2 linked regions of the Homo sapiens genome follow. Changing the gene in region 1 together with any one later gene gives a genetic interaction. Each region holds a gene or a part of one and is shown on either strand. Other genes may lie near its edges.

Evidence for each region. Genes that interact genetically often act in the same process or in processes that back each other up.
Region 2: of PIK3R5 (region 1) and GNG2, changing one enhances a phenotype caused by changing the other (phenotypic enhancement), as found in Homo sapiens cells (one study listed by BioGRID).

What each region holds. Positions count from the first base shown.
Region 1 is NC_000017.11:8,899,694-8,906,717, forward strand, and holds part of PIK3R5 (phosphoinositide 3-kinase regulatory subunit 5), read right to left. Parts: intron 6,890-7,024; exon of another isoform or gene 6,711-6,889; intron 6,045-6,710; coding exon 5,976-6,044; intron 5,223-5,975; coding exon 5,084-5,222; intron 2,624-5,083; exon of another isoform or gene 2,585-2,623; intron 1,625-2,584; exon of another isoform or gene 1,530-1,624; intron 1,208-1,529; exon of another isoform or gene 1,104-1,207; intron 1-1,103. UniProt on the Homo sapiens protein: Regulatory subunit of the PI3K gamma complex. Required for recruitment of the catalytic subunit to the plasma membrane via interaction with beta-gamma G protein dimers. Required for G protein-mediated activation of PIK3CG.
Region 2 is NC_000014.9:51,856,365-51,863,626, reverse strand, and holds the start of GNG2 (guanine nucleotide-binding protein G(I)/G(S)/G(O) subunit gamma-2 precursor), read right to left. Parts: upstream 3,016-7,262; 5' UTR 2,837-3,015; intron 2,304-2,836; exon of another isoform or gene 2,237-2,303; intron 1-2,236. UniProt on the Homo sapiens protein: Guanine nucleotide-binding proteins (G proteins) are involved as a modulator or transducer in various transmembrane signaling systems.

The DNA of each region.
Region 1 (7,024 bases):
CACTTAACTGGGGGTGGGAGGGACTCAGGAATTGGGCAGCAGGCCTGTTGAAAATCATAGGAAAGGCTGGGCGCGGTGGCTCATGCTTGTAATCCCAGCACTTTGGGAGGCCGAGGTGGGCGGCTCACAAGGTTAGGAGTTCGAGACCAGCCTGGCCAATATGGTGAAACCCCGTCTCTACTAAAAATACAAAAATTAGCCAGGCATGGTGGTGCACGCCTGTAGTCCCAGCTACTCGGGAAGCTGAGGCAGAAGAATCGCTTGAACCCAGGAGGCAGAGGTTGCAGTGAGCCGAGGTCGTGCCACTGCATTCCAGCCTGGGTGACAGAGCGAGATTCCATCTTAAAAAAAAAAAAATCGTGCGAAAGTATTTTTCAACAAGCTCATTTAAGGGTCATGTAGAAGGTAATTTTGTTTAACTATCTGTCATTAATTAGGGCTTAGGTTCTTTAAAATTGAAGGTTAACTGGTGGATGTGAGATAAGTTGCAAGAGATTTTTGTTCAATAGAAAAGATAACCTCAAAGGTTATGGTTTTATTCCCCTCTGTGATGTTAACTATTTGGTATCTAACTTTGAGTCTTACTCTAGCTTCCATGAGGAGCTCATCTCAGTTTCTTGGATCCTCCTTTAAGCCAGCTCTATCATCGTGCTGGTTTCCTCATTAATGAGCGGGCACAGGCTCACTGTATATTTACGTATGTGTGAGGTTTTGGAACTGTTTGAAAATGATTCCCCGAAACGAGGGAGAGTTGATGGTTTCCTATTTTGGTTCTGCTTTCCCTGGAAGAGGAGAGGTTCCTGCCATGGGTACTTGGCTTGAGCTGCCCTCTTGGGGCATCTGACTTCTCCTTGGTCACCAGGATATCTGAAGCTTCACATGGTCCCGGGAAGGATGTGGAGGAAAAGGCCATCAGCAGTGAGTGATGGTTCCAAGAGTCCCCCCTGCTCTGAGGCCAAAGGACCCTCATTCTACTTCCGGCTCCAGCTGCTGCCCTGCCTGGCCCTTGTGCTGCAGGCTTCACATGTTATCATTCCAGGGCCAGGGCCTCACCACCGCCAGCACCTCCGTGGCACATCTGCTTTCTGTGCTGCCCAGAACGGAGTTTCTACCCAGCCGCCTGCAAAAATATCTCAAGGCATAGCGTGCATTGAGCTGAGGAGGGACAGCCGGTTCTACTTGAAACTGGGAAGTGGTCTCCCCACAGGTAATCCCCTCCCCCAACCCCACAACTCTCTTATCCTTTTCAAAATAAAAAAGAATCATTTCGGTCTTTGGTGGAAACCCAACGCCCTGCCAAGACATTTGCATTTTAAATTCTTTCTCTGAGCGTACTCGAAAGGAAGAAAGGCATTGCCTCCTAGCAAAGGAACTTCAGTCACCAACCAGAAGCTCAGAAGGCATTCTGATCTGTTTGTTTTGGGGGACAGTGGGAGGGAGTGTGGGAGGGAATGAAGGAGTTTGACCTTAAACTGGCGTGTTCCTTTAGGGTTTGTTCCTTTAACTGGTTTGTTCCTTTCCTTGGGAAGCTGGGTTGGCAAACCCAGCTTTTACCTTTCAGAGTCCAGCGCCTCCTAAGGGTCTTCCTGATGTCCTAAATCTCCACCCAAGTCTCTACCATGAGGTGAGGACCTTGTTATAGGTAGACTTGGGGGTTGGCCATCCCTAGCTGTACTTGCTCTGCTCTTTGTAATGACAGACAGCTGACTGATGGGGGGGCAGGTAGATCAGCTGATTGGGCGAGGCACAGACAGGTCAGCTGACTGGGTGGGGCGCAGACAGATCAGGTAACTGGTTGGGTAGGAAAGTTATGAACACTTCCAAAGAAATTTACAAGCCAGTCTTGAGCTTTCTAGGGTCCATAAGTTGTTGGGGAATAAGATTTGGTACTTCTGTTCTGTGTGTGTTTAATGTGTAAGGTGAGAATTAAACGCTGCCAGTACTAAACAGGACCTGGTGCATGTATACATTAGAAAGAGAGAAAACAAAAATGGGATTATAACATACTTAGTATTGGGGGGACTGCTTTTTCGCTCAACTAGTTATTCAACATCTTTTGAGCTCAGTAACTATTTCTACAATATCATTTTTAATAATTGAATATCATTCCACCAAATGACTTTGCCGCAGTATACTCAACCATGTTCAATATTTAGGTTTTTTGGCATTGGTTGATTATTAGCAAGGATGCGTTGATGAACGTCTTTGTTTTGTAGCTACATCTTTGTACATCCATAGGGATTCATCAGGATAAAATTGAGGAATGGAATTGCTGGGTGAAAGGGTATGCTTTCTGATGCTTTAGCAAACACAGCCCCCCATTCCTCACCAGCGCTGGCATTTTTGTTCTTTCTTTTTAATTTTTGCCAATTTGATAGGGGGGGAAGAAGAGTCTTGCTCTTTAGTTTTGCATTTTCTTTATGAGTAGTGAGGGTGAATATTTTGGGGGGTTCTTTTTGATGTACTTGAATCATATTTATTCATATTTCCATAAGTGTATTTGCCTATTTCTTAATGGACTAAAAAAAAAACCTCTTCATGGGTTTGATATATTAATTTTTTTTTTTTTTTTTTTTTTTTTTAGATGGAGTCTCGCTTTGTCTGCAGGCTGGAGTGCAATGGCACGATCTTGACTCACTGCAACCTCTGCCTCCCAGGTTCAAGCGATTCTCTGCCTCAGCCTCCCGAGTAGCTGGGACTACAGGTGTATGCCACCACGCCCAAATAATTTTTGTATTTTTAGTAGAGACGGGTTTCACCATGTTGGCCAGGATGGTCTCGATCTCCAGACCTCATGATCTGCCCACCTCGGCCTCCCAAAATGCTGGGATTACAGGTCTGAGCCACAGCACTTGGCCTGATATATTAATTTTTATTGCAAATATTTTTCTCAGTTTGTCATTTACCTTTCACTCAAAGTGGGCTTGCCATATGAAAAGCTTTAAATTTTATGCTTTCATATCTGTTAGTCTTTTCCTTTATAATTTTTGCCCTGGGGAATATGTTTGGCAGCTCTTCTCCACTCCAGGCTAATACAACCTATTTTTCTTCTGTAGTTTTTGTGGTCTTGTCTTCTACACCTAAACCTTTAATGTATCTAAAAGTTATTTTTATGTTTGCATTAGAACTCTTAATTTTATTTTTTAGATAGAATTTTTTTTTTTTTTTGAGACAGAGTTTCGCTCTTGTTGCCCAGGCTGGAGTGCAATGGTGTGATCTCGGAGGCACTTGAACCTCCACCTCCTGGGTTCAAGTGATTCTCCTGCCTCAGCCTCCTGAGTAGCTGGGATTACAGGCTCATGCCACCACACTCAGCTAATTTTCTATTTTTAGTAGAGATGGGGTTTCACCATATTGGTCAGGCTGGTCTCGAACTCCTGACCTCAGGTGATCTGCCCGCCTTGGCGTCCCAAAGTGCTGGGATTACAGGCATGAGCCACCACACCTGGCCTTTTTAGATAGTCTTCTAACTCAATATTTTTTATGGTCTACCAATTATCCTGATATCATCTATGAAATGACTGATTTTTTCATCAGTAATTTGAGGATGCCACTTTGTCATATAATATAATTTTGTATATTTAATATATTTCTAGATATTACATCTTCTTCCATTATCTATCTATTCTTATACCCATAGTGTACTATTTTAATAACTATAGCCCTATAGTACCTTCAAAAAATGGAAATATTTCCTTCTTACTCTCCTTTAAAAATACATGAATGAATATATACTAAGTGCATAAATAAATCTTTCAAATAGATTTTTTTATTTTCTTTATATATAAATTTATTTATTTGTAAAATATTTATATATTATGTTTTTTAGTTTACATATATTTTATAAATTTTAAAAATATCTTGGTATTTTGATTGTGGTTACGTTTACTTTCCTAACACCTGGTCTCGTTACAATATTGATTCAACCCAGCAATACGATTCTTCAATTATTCATTCTTCAGCAAAGTTTGTTTTCTCTATATAGGTTATTAAAATTTCTTTTATTTTTTATTTTTAATTGCTATTGTAAATTTTTTAAAATTATGTTTTCTCACTGGTTAATGCTGGTTTATAAAAAAAGCTCTTAGCTACCTGTTTTCTAGTTCTGACAATTCTTTGTTCAGGGGATTCTCTCAGTCTCGACAGAAAACCAATTGTTTGAGCTCCAACTAATTAAAATTTCTCTTCTTCAGAAGAGAAAGTATTCTTTATTTTTGTCTTTTTGCATAGGCAAATACCTATAAGCCAAAAGAGGAAGATTATTGGCTCTAAAGAACATGCCTCTAGTATTTTACCTTGGGCTGTTGCCATATTAAAAGCACTTCTAGAGTAATCGTTTCCATATATTGAGGGGTTTTGAATATCAGGAATGATGATGAATTTTATGAAATATTTTAGAGGCATCTATTGAGATGCTTTTGCGAATTTATTCCTTTGAGTACTGATTCGCTGAGCCGCTTCTCAGTAAATCACACTTGCTAAGTTTTCTCCTGCACTACTGTAGCTTCCTTAGACCTGATTTGCATGTCTATGACAGCACCTGCAATTTCTGAAGAATTCTTACTTTTCAGACCCCACACATGAAAACTGAGTCCCGGGTCTTGTCCACATTTGTCACAGTGGTCATTGTTCCTAGTACCAGCCACCTTCCCCAACCCAAACTGCATCAACCCACACACACAATTACCTACTTGTTCCTGGGGCACAGAGAACATGCAAAGCCCTCTTGTCAGCATCCTGGGGGCTTCTCTGTCTGATCTGGGTAGCCTTGGAGACCCCTTGACTAACCAGATCAGAGGCACAGGCCAAGGTGGGGTCTCCTTGCCCTGAGTGCCTGCTCCTACTTCCCCTAACAATCCCTCCTCGAGTTACCTCCCATATTTACTTTCATCTTGTGTGGATTCAACCATCAGATGCTTGATGGTGCTGTGAAGAGGAGACTCCATGTTTGTGAACCAAGGCGTTGGCAGAGATGAATCAAAGGATGCAAGGTAAGGAGGGTCACAAAAAACAGTTTCAGAGGAGTTGGAAGCATTCTGACCTTCTGAGCCCTGTCCCCCGTGCCAGCTGCCTCAGTGCTTACCTGGGGCCTTGAGTTCAGCATCAATGAAGGTGAGCAGCTCCTGGCAGATGCTGCAGTAAGGAACAGGCCAGGTCAGGAACCGGTGGTAGGTGCTGGCTGCCTTCAGAAGGAGATCCGAGTCTGGTGGGAAGTGTGGTGTCTAGGATGGAGGCAGGCAACAAGCAAAGAGATCTAGGTGAGAAAAGGCTCAGATAGTCCCAGACAGCTTCTGCTCCCTTTCTGGAATATTCCACAAAAGACACACATTTCCTGGCCGCAGCGTGTCCCAGGACAAGGTCAGGTGGAACTGGAAGTTACTCACAGGGAGTGGGTTACAGATGGGCAAGATGGCACCCAGGGTGTCTCTACTGGGAGGGACTTGCTTTACCCAATGCTTGAGTGAGCCTCTCTGAAAGGCTGTCCCCTTACTGGTAAATGGTGCCATTGCTGACACTTGTTATGGATAATGGTCTTCAATGCCTAAACCACCTTTACTTAAATAGCCTCATTACAGGTAAATGTTTATTTTTTGAGGATGGATTCAGTCAGTGTACACATTTGATGCCCCCCTGTCTGGTGAATACAGGGGGTGATCACATTGGGTGAAACCGACTACTGGGGTGAAAAATGAGGTGGACATAGAATATCTCTTGTGGCCTGTGAACAGACAGTGACAGCAGTTCCAACATGGGAGCCCAGAGATGCCAGGCACCATGGCGGCCACATGGAGTCACCAGAAGCCTCTCATGGTGGCTGCTCTGAAGCCATCTAAGGGTTGAAACCCATTTCACATGCCGCTGCTTGACAGTTTCTCTCTCTGCTTATCTCCAGAGGTGTGAGGGCTCTGCCCCAGATAGAGGTCGCTCCTCCCCCTCCTCCCTCACCTCCAGCATCCTGGCCCACGTGGACTTACACAAAGAACAGTGGAATAGAAGAGCAGGGCCAGCGGGGTGAGCAGGTCGTAGGTGCCCTTCTCCTGGACCTGTGGAGAGGAGGAGAAGGGGAATGAGCCTCATTCACGGGGTCCAGGGCTCCCTGAGGCAGAATACAGTGGTTCTTCCTCATTCTAGCCTTTCTTTTTTTTTTTTTTTTAGGGGAAAATAGTGCAATCACATGACAAACATTTGGAAAATGGATGTAAACGAAAACACTTACAATTTCCCCTCCCAAACCCAACCACAGCTGTTTCAATGTCCCTCTTCTGATGCCATTTTTGCCCTATGTATTTTCTTTTCTTTGTTTTTAAATTTTATTTTAAGTTCTGGGATACATGTGCAGAACGGGCAGGTTTGTTACATAGGTATACATGTGCCATGGTGGTTTGCTGCACCCATCAACCTGTCATCTAGGTTTTAAGCCCCACATGCATTAGGTATTTGTCCTAATGCTCTCCCTCCCCTTGTCCCCCATCCCCGACAGGCCCCGGTGTGTGATGTCCCCTCCCTGTGTCCATGTGTTCTCATTGTTCAAATCCCACTTATGAGTGAGAACATGCGGTGTTTGGTTTTCTGTTCCTGTGTCTGCGAAGCTATAAGCTGTGTGTATATTTTTACTCCTAACGTATTTTACATATAGTATTATAAGTAAATTTCTGTTTTACTATACGGTCTCTAAGACCACCTTTTTTCCCTTCTGGTTATACATTTACCTGTTATTTGTGTTATAAATATTTTTTTCCAGTTGGTTGTTTGCCTTTTAATTTTATAAATATTTTTGATGTACAGAAATTACAGGTGTTGATTTTTCCTTCATGGATTTTTGCTTTTGCATGCAAGGATCATGTAAATATTCATATATACTTTCTTATCTTCTTTGAAGCTTCGTTTTCTGAAATTGAAATATTTAGTCTGGGCCCAGTGGCTCATGCTTGTAATCTCAACACTTTGGGAGGCCGAGGCAGGTGGATCACTTGAGGCCAGGAGTTCGAGACCAGCCTGACCAACATGGCAAAACCCCATCTGT
Region 2 (7,262 bases), on another chromosome or scaffold:
TGGATGGACGGTGGTGATGACAGCACATCAATGTACTCGCTACCACAGAACTGCATACTTAAAAAAATAGTTAAAATGGGAAATGTTATGTTATGTATATTTTATCACTATAAAAAAAGTCTCCCTAAACCTGTGAGGCAGTGGTAAAGACCAAGAATATGCTAACTTTTCCTTATGCCACCAAGGAAGAAAAAAATAACATTTCAGTACCTTCTATGTAGAAATCACTCACTTATCCGCACACAAAAGCAAAAACAAAGCAAAACAACAACTTTGATTATGTATTACTAGCCCTTCTTTACAATGAGGAAACTGAGGTTCCTAAGTTAATGTACCAAGGTAAGTAGTAAGAACCAGTAATAGGTTTCAAAGGCAGATCTGCCTGGCTCCAAAGCCTGCGTTCTTTTCACTCCACAGTGTTTTCTCCTACCCACAGAAGTCTTTTATGAACAGGCTTTCTACTTTGACTATACAGCTTTTAGACTTAAAAGTTGGGCCTGCTTTCTGAAGCAGGCTAAACAAAGTCAGTCAAACAAACACATTCACTACATGTCCACCATATGAGGCCCAAGGCTGGCAATGAAATAATGGAGTCATGTTTCCATTCAGCCATTGGCCATATGGCAGAAAAAAAAAAAAAAAGCACAATTAAAATTTCTGTGTTGGTCTACTCCTCAAAAGCCAGTGAATACCCCAGGAAAAATCATTAAGTCTTTCAATATTCCATATGGCCAGAATAAGTGGAAATAGTTTCATTTTACAATGTAGAAGCATATTCATCTTTTTCCTAAACATTCTACCATCATAGTTACTGATCTGCTGTTACTCACTAATGTTCTGCTTCAAGCTGGAATTTAACGATTAAGAAATGTTTTGTGCTGTGCAGAAAATAGGCACCTCTTAGTTGTTTTCAGAAAGATAGCAAGGCCCTCTTGACTCTACTATGCCCGTCGGGCAAGGTTTCATTTTCTTACTCATGTGTGAAACACACACAGAAGACTAATGCAGATTGTCTGTGCCTCCCCAAACAAAGTAGGGTGTTGGCATTATCTAGTGAATACAGCCTGCAGAGGAGTAAGTACCAAAGGGTAAGCCTGTCCTTATCCATGCAGCTCAGGTTGCCAACTTTTTACTTCATTTCATGATGCACAGCTTGATTCTAGAACTCCACTGGGTCATTCTGGATCGAAGATCTATCCTAGGTCTCTTCTCTAAGAAGATGATCTTTACATACTTCCCTTTAAGATGCAAATAGGAAGTGGAACTGCAAAATCCATGTCACGACTTGTTTTGCCCACAAGTTTGATTAAATTCAGTGAATCCTTCAAGGAGTTCCATGGTTTCAATACTAGCAGTACTTTGTCTCTTAGGCATGGTGCAGGTTTACTTTAATGAGCAAAAAACCTCTGAGAAATAGACTTTTTTTTTCTTTAGTAGCTATAAAAGCTTCCCATCTCTCAAAATGTGCTGCTACTCCACAGATTTTGAGAAGCCATATCGATTTCATAAAGATAGCATTAAAAATAGCCCTATAGCTCTTAACAAGTGAGAACGATGATAAAGGAGGAGGCATATACATACATACACTCTCAACTAGCATATTTGGTATCTAAGAACCTATGTTTCAAGAATCTGTGAGTGTCAAAATATTGACTTTTTTTAAATTTTTACTCCACTATAAGCAGTTTTTTCTCTTTCTTTTGAAAAATTATCTCCTTTCATTATAGAAACTCTAGAAGAAAAACCCTTTTATCAATGACTACTTACTGCTTAACTGTACTTTCTGTTGAAGATTAAAAAAGCTTAATTCTTTAAATCGTGCTGCATGAGGGTATTAAACTCCCTAATATATCCTGTCAGAGGAATCTCACAATCTCAGTTCTCATCTGCTAGACCTATTTAGTGTACTTTTACATATCATTCATAAATATGAACAAGTCATAGACCCAGGCTCTCATTAAGAACATCCTTTGCTCAAGAAAATCAAAGAATAAAAATCATGTTCTGGTTTTACTACTTCAGTCTATCTACCAGATATTCGCGTAAGGAAACAACCCAGCTGCACTTTTTTATTTTGTCCCTCACCGAGGCTAACATGCACCTTGACCTAGAGGTGAATAAAATGCATATAAACATAAAATCCATGCATATGCTAGTATCTGATTCTGGACAAGTTACTGGCCTTAAACCCGCCACGCTCCTTTGAACAAGGATGCAACTTTAGGATAAGACCTACTGGCAAATGATAGCTGTGTCTGAGGTTATCCTGAAAGCAGCTGCACAAGCTGAGGGAGGAAGACACTGTTTTTTAATGGTAAATACTGCCCCTCACATACGCAATTCAAGCCTTTGTTGGCAAAATCTAAGTACAAAAGAATTTAACTCCCCCAAAAGCCAAATCACAGCCATTATTTTTGCAAAACAGAAGATATCCCAGTGCAATGTGTAAGAAAGAGAATGCAATTAATATTTTACACCACTCACTCCCCTAAAACAAGGGGACTGCCGGGCTCCGATGACCAGACCACAGCTTCACAGCCCCAGATGGATTTCGACTCAGCCCTGGTTTTCCTCCGAGAGAACTATACAAACAGCTTCTTGTATTTAGCATGTTGGCCTGTTTAGTCATCAAATCTAAGCACTGATGATGAGGTTTTTTTAAATCAAATGTGTCATAAATGTGGTTATTCTCAAAGACCCTTCCAAAAGAATCTAATCATTTCCCCTAGTCCTGAAGCGATGTCTCTATCATCCCTTAGAAATCGGACCTTAAAACCACAAGCGACGGTCGTTTTTCTCAATTAAAAACGAGCAACATGGAAAACGTTTCATTTACCTTAGCTCCCGAGGCTTGGTCCGAGGAGCGTGGTTTTCCCCTCTCCGGAGCTGATCTGTGCAGGCGAGCTCCGGCGCAGCCCAGCCCAGCCCAGCCCAGCCCAGCAGTAGTAGGAGTTGCCCACGGAGCGCGGCGGCAGCGTTGTGAGTATGTGTAGCAGCGGCTGCAGCCCAGGGACTAGTCCCCACCCAGCTTTGTCTTCAATCAACGTTCTTTCTACAGGAAGCAGCGCATCTCCCACTTCCTCCTCTTCTTGGTAGCTGTTAGCGGCTTGCTTCTTTTCCCTCTCATTTCCATTTCAGGGCTTACTCTGGTGGTTTTGTCTGCTCCTGGGCTGCTGACAGTGATTTGACTTTAATCCCCCTTCTCCCTTTGTTCAAGTCCCTCTGGTGCTGTCTGTTCCTTCCTTCCCCTTTTCTCATCCCCCCACGGTCACCTCCACGACAGCTTCCACACACTGCTCAGTCGGCCCCCTTCCTGGCACACTGCCTGCTTTTTTAGCCTGAACCTGGCTTGTTGCTATTGTTGTTCTTGCTGTTGTTGTTTCTACTGCTGCTGCTGTTTTTTTTTGGGTCAACATCCCCTGGCCAGGTTCTGGCCCCCGAGATCCCACACCAGCCTCCACTGTTCCTCCTGATTTACTGTGGTCCCCATCAAGCCAGCTAGCTGGGAGCTTGCAGCTTGCAGCTTGCAGCTTCTCACTGCAGCATTTTTCTCTGTGGCCAACATTTCAGAGGCTTCATTTCTCCAAGGTCCCACTACCACTGAGATCTTACTTAACCCACATGCTCAGAAAAGAATGGCCCTGATAAGTATTCTTATGGGGCACGGGAACTAAACCAAGTTGGCAATGCTACCTATAGGCCTAATAGTGAGGACTATTCCCAAAAGATTCTCATAGATGGGAAGGAATGAGGTGGTGCTGAATGCTGCACATTCCCAACAGAGAAACTGAATACTCCTCTCCCCATTCCACACACACTAGTAGGGCTGAAGGACCCTCATGATCCTCCAGTCCCTTCCCTTCATCTTAGGAGGTAATATCGTAGAACCCACCAGGGTAGAGCCTGCAAGCTGTCTCTGTCTGCCAGAATTTCAATCCAAATTGCCATTAATGACTGTATGAACTTGGGCAAATTATTTAACATCTATGTGCCTCAGTTTCCTCATCTGCAAAACATAGTTGATGATAGTCATGCTCTACATTGGAAATATGAGGATTAAATGAGATGGTATACAAGGTGCTAATAATAGTTCTGGGGATATAGGACGTATTCGGCACATATTAACTCTTATTATTTTTAGAGGATGTTGGGCCTCACATTCAGCAAGTGATTTCGCCAGTCAGCAGCCGAACCCTCACCAGTACTTGGTTTTCCAATTCCTCACTATTAGTATGTTCACAATTGAGCCCAGATGCTTTAATAACAATTTATTCAACGTGTGAGTCATTCTCCCCCTAGTACTAACACAAGGTACTTTGGGGAAGCTACAGATTAAACATGAGATGGGGGAAGGGGAATCCTGTTCTAGTGTCCAGGCAACATTATGGAGTTAAAAACAAAAACAACAACAACAAAAAACACCTCTTCTCAGGAATCAGTGCCTGGAAAGCTAATCTTGCCAGGAAACAGTTAATTCCCCAACTCCTCCTTTTTAATCCAGTTTTGCCTTAATCCTCCAGCAAGTAAACTAACAGGAAATGTTAGAAATCTAGGACTGATGGAGAATAACTCTCCAGTTGAGCCTTCCAAACACATCGTGAGGACCACAGCACGTTAACCTAGAAGGTACAGAATTTAATTTCTATGAAATGTTCTGAGACAGTCCCAAAACACCCTTTGTTTTGATTTGAACAGTTTGCTTATTTTTTCAAGGAAATCTTTCATCAAAAAGGACCCTGATGTCAACTCACTCACACCTGAAAATTACAAAATGGATTGATTTAAGATTGAAAATGAGCAACTAGCTTTGATCCACCAGCAGATAGAAATGCAGTAGTGAGAGGGATTGGGCATGAATCCACCAACATGTGAGTTATCTCCAAACCAGGAACCCTTGTGCCAAAGGTTACCAGGAACTTTTAAATGTAAATTTAAATATGCATGATGCCAAGTCTAAGAAAAATGAGAAGCATGTTATTAATGGTTGGAAACAAGACTATGGTTAATTTTAGACAAGTAGGTTCTGGCATAAACTCTAGATTCAAGTACAGTAATTTTTTGTGTCTTTTTGTTTCTAACTCTCTCTCAACCATCCTCCGATGGTTGGTATTTATATTTAAGCCTATATAGGTTGGTATTTATACTTAAGCCTATATAGGAAAACCTCTTTCAAACAATAAAATCTCTAGGAATTTTGCCTGCTGCCTTTTAATTAGTTCTTCCATCTCTGGCCCTTATAAAACTCACAGTAGGTTAATCGCCAGTGTTGGGAGGTGCCAACAAAACTCTATACAAAGCTAAAAACTAGATTTTAAGACCTCTCTTTCATTAATACCTCATTGCTTTTCAACTGGTCCTAATAGCCTCTTTTTCAGGAGAGAAAAGTAAAGTGTGGGGGTATAGCTTGGCCAGGATAGATTAATCCAGTTTAGAGCTCTTAACACAAGTTTGCATACCAAGTTTGCAAAGTGTTAATTTCTTAGGAAAATGACATCTCGCCATTAATAGTTTATGCATCAATTGCTAACCATGAGCCTATCCCAGTACATTTTATCACTGGGTAAAACAAAGTCTGTAAAATACTCTAACATTCATGCATGGCCTATTTGCAGGCATTAATACCTTGTATTTCTTACATCTACTGGTAGCGGAGGTTGGGTAATGAGGAGGACATAATTTTGGCCTGATGTCTCTCCTATGTTATTGAGCTTTCTAGCTGGATGTTCCTTGGAGTTATGTTTAATAATCCCCAAATTATGTACTATACCTTCATCCAAAGCCTGTTCCTCTTTCTATATTCTCCATTTCATTTAATGAGGAATACAAACCAGTTGCCCACATCAGGAATATAAGAATAATCCCAAAACCTTTTATCTTTGTTATCCCAATCTGATTTAAAGTTCCTCTTCCTTTCCTTCTCACCACCAAACTATCTCCTTGCCCAAACCCCTCCTCTCTCTTCCTCTTGCCACTGTCTTATTTTACAAATGCTTTGGTTTTTTCTGTGCAATTACAATACTTTCTACTTTGTCCTCCTACCTCCAGTCTCTCTTCGAAGCCATCCCCATCAGAAGTACATTGCTGAGATGGAGAGTTGATCAAGTCACTTTCCTACTATAATTCTTCAGTATCTTCCCCTCCAGGTTGCTTACAGGATATATGCCTTAATTCCTCTGCATGGCATACAAAGCCTTCTGTGATGTCACCTGTCCACATTCTCACCTTAGGGCCTGTCGCAGCCTTATATCCTACAACCTTCACAACAGGTTCCTGATGGGACTGTGCTGCTTTCTCCCTGCATCTTGGCACATGCTATTTCTGTTGCCAGAAATGCCCTATCCCTTCCTCTATTTTGCCTGCTAGTAAACCCCTACTTATCCTTTAGGACTCAGCTTTTCTCAGAAGCCTTCCCTGGCCGTGGAAACTAGGCAGGTGCTTCCTTTTCTGTGAGTATGACTGGTGCCTTGCCTCTACTTCCATTTCAGCACTAAAGCCATTATTTTCAGGTTTTGTTAGATGTGCATCTCACCCATTAGCATTTGGGTCCATTAAGGTTAGGTCCACATTTGCTTGTCACACAGCAGAGTCAACAGATGTTTGTATAATGAAAAGGCATCATTGGCAGAAATTCCATTCCTTTGAGTGAGGGGAGGAAAAGGAAGTCTCAAAAATGAGAAGTTGGTCATGGGGTAAGAAATAAAATCCCTCCCTCTCTATATATATATTTTGCAAATTTTCTATAGAAATCCATGGCACATGCACACAAAATTCTGAATATTTGTTATATGGGCAAGCCTAAAAAATTCTGGGACAACTCCTAGTTCCATTTCTGCATTGAACTTCTTATAAAGAAGCATAGTCTGGCAACAAAAAAGTAATTAGAAAATAAATATTAAGGCTGGGCTCAGTGGCCTATGCCTGTAATCCCAGCAATTTGGGAGGCCAAGGCAGGCAGATCACTAGGTCAGGAGTTCAAGACCAGCCTGGCCAACACAGTGAAACCCCATCTCTACTAAAAATACAAAAATAAGCCGGGTGTAGTGGTGCACGCCTGTAGTCCCAACTACTCAGGAGGCTGAGGCAGGAGAATCACTTGAACCCAGGAGGCAGAGGTTGCAGTGAGCCAAGATTTTGCCATTGCACTCTACCTGGGCAACAGAGCAAGACTCCGTCTCGAACAACAACAACAAAAAAGAAAAGAAATATTAAAAAGAAAGCTATTCTTTATTTGTATCTCTGTAGGAACTTTAAAGAGACTGATG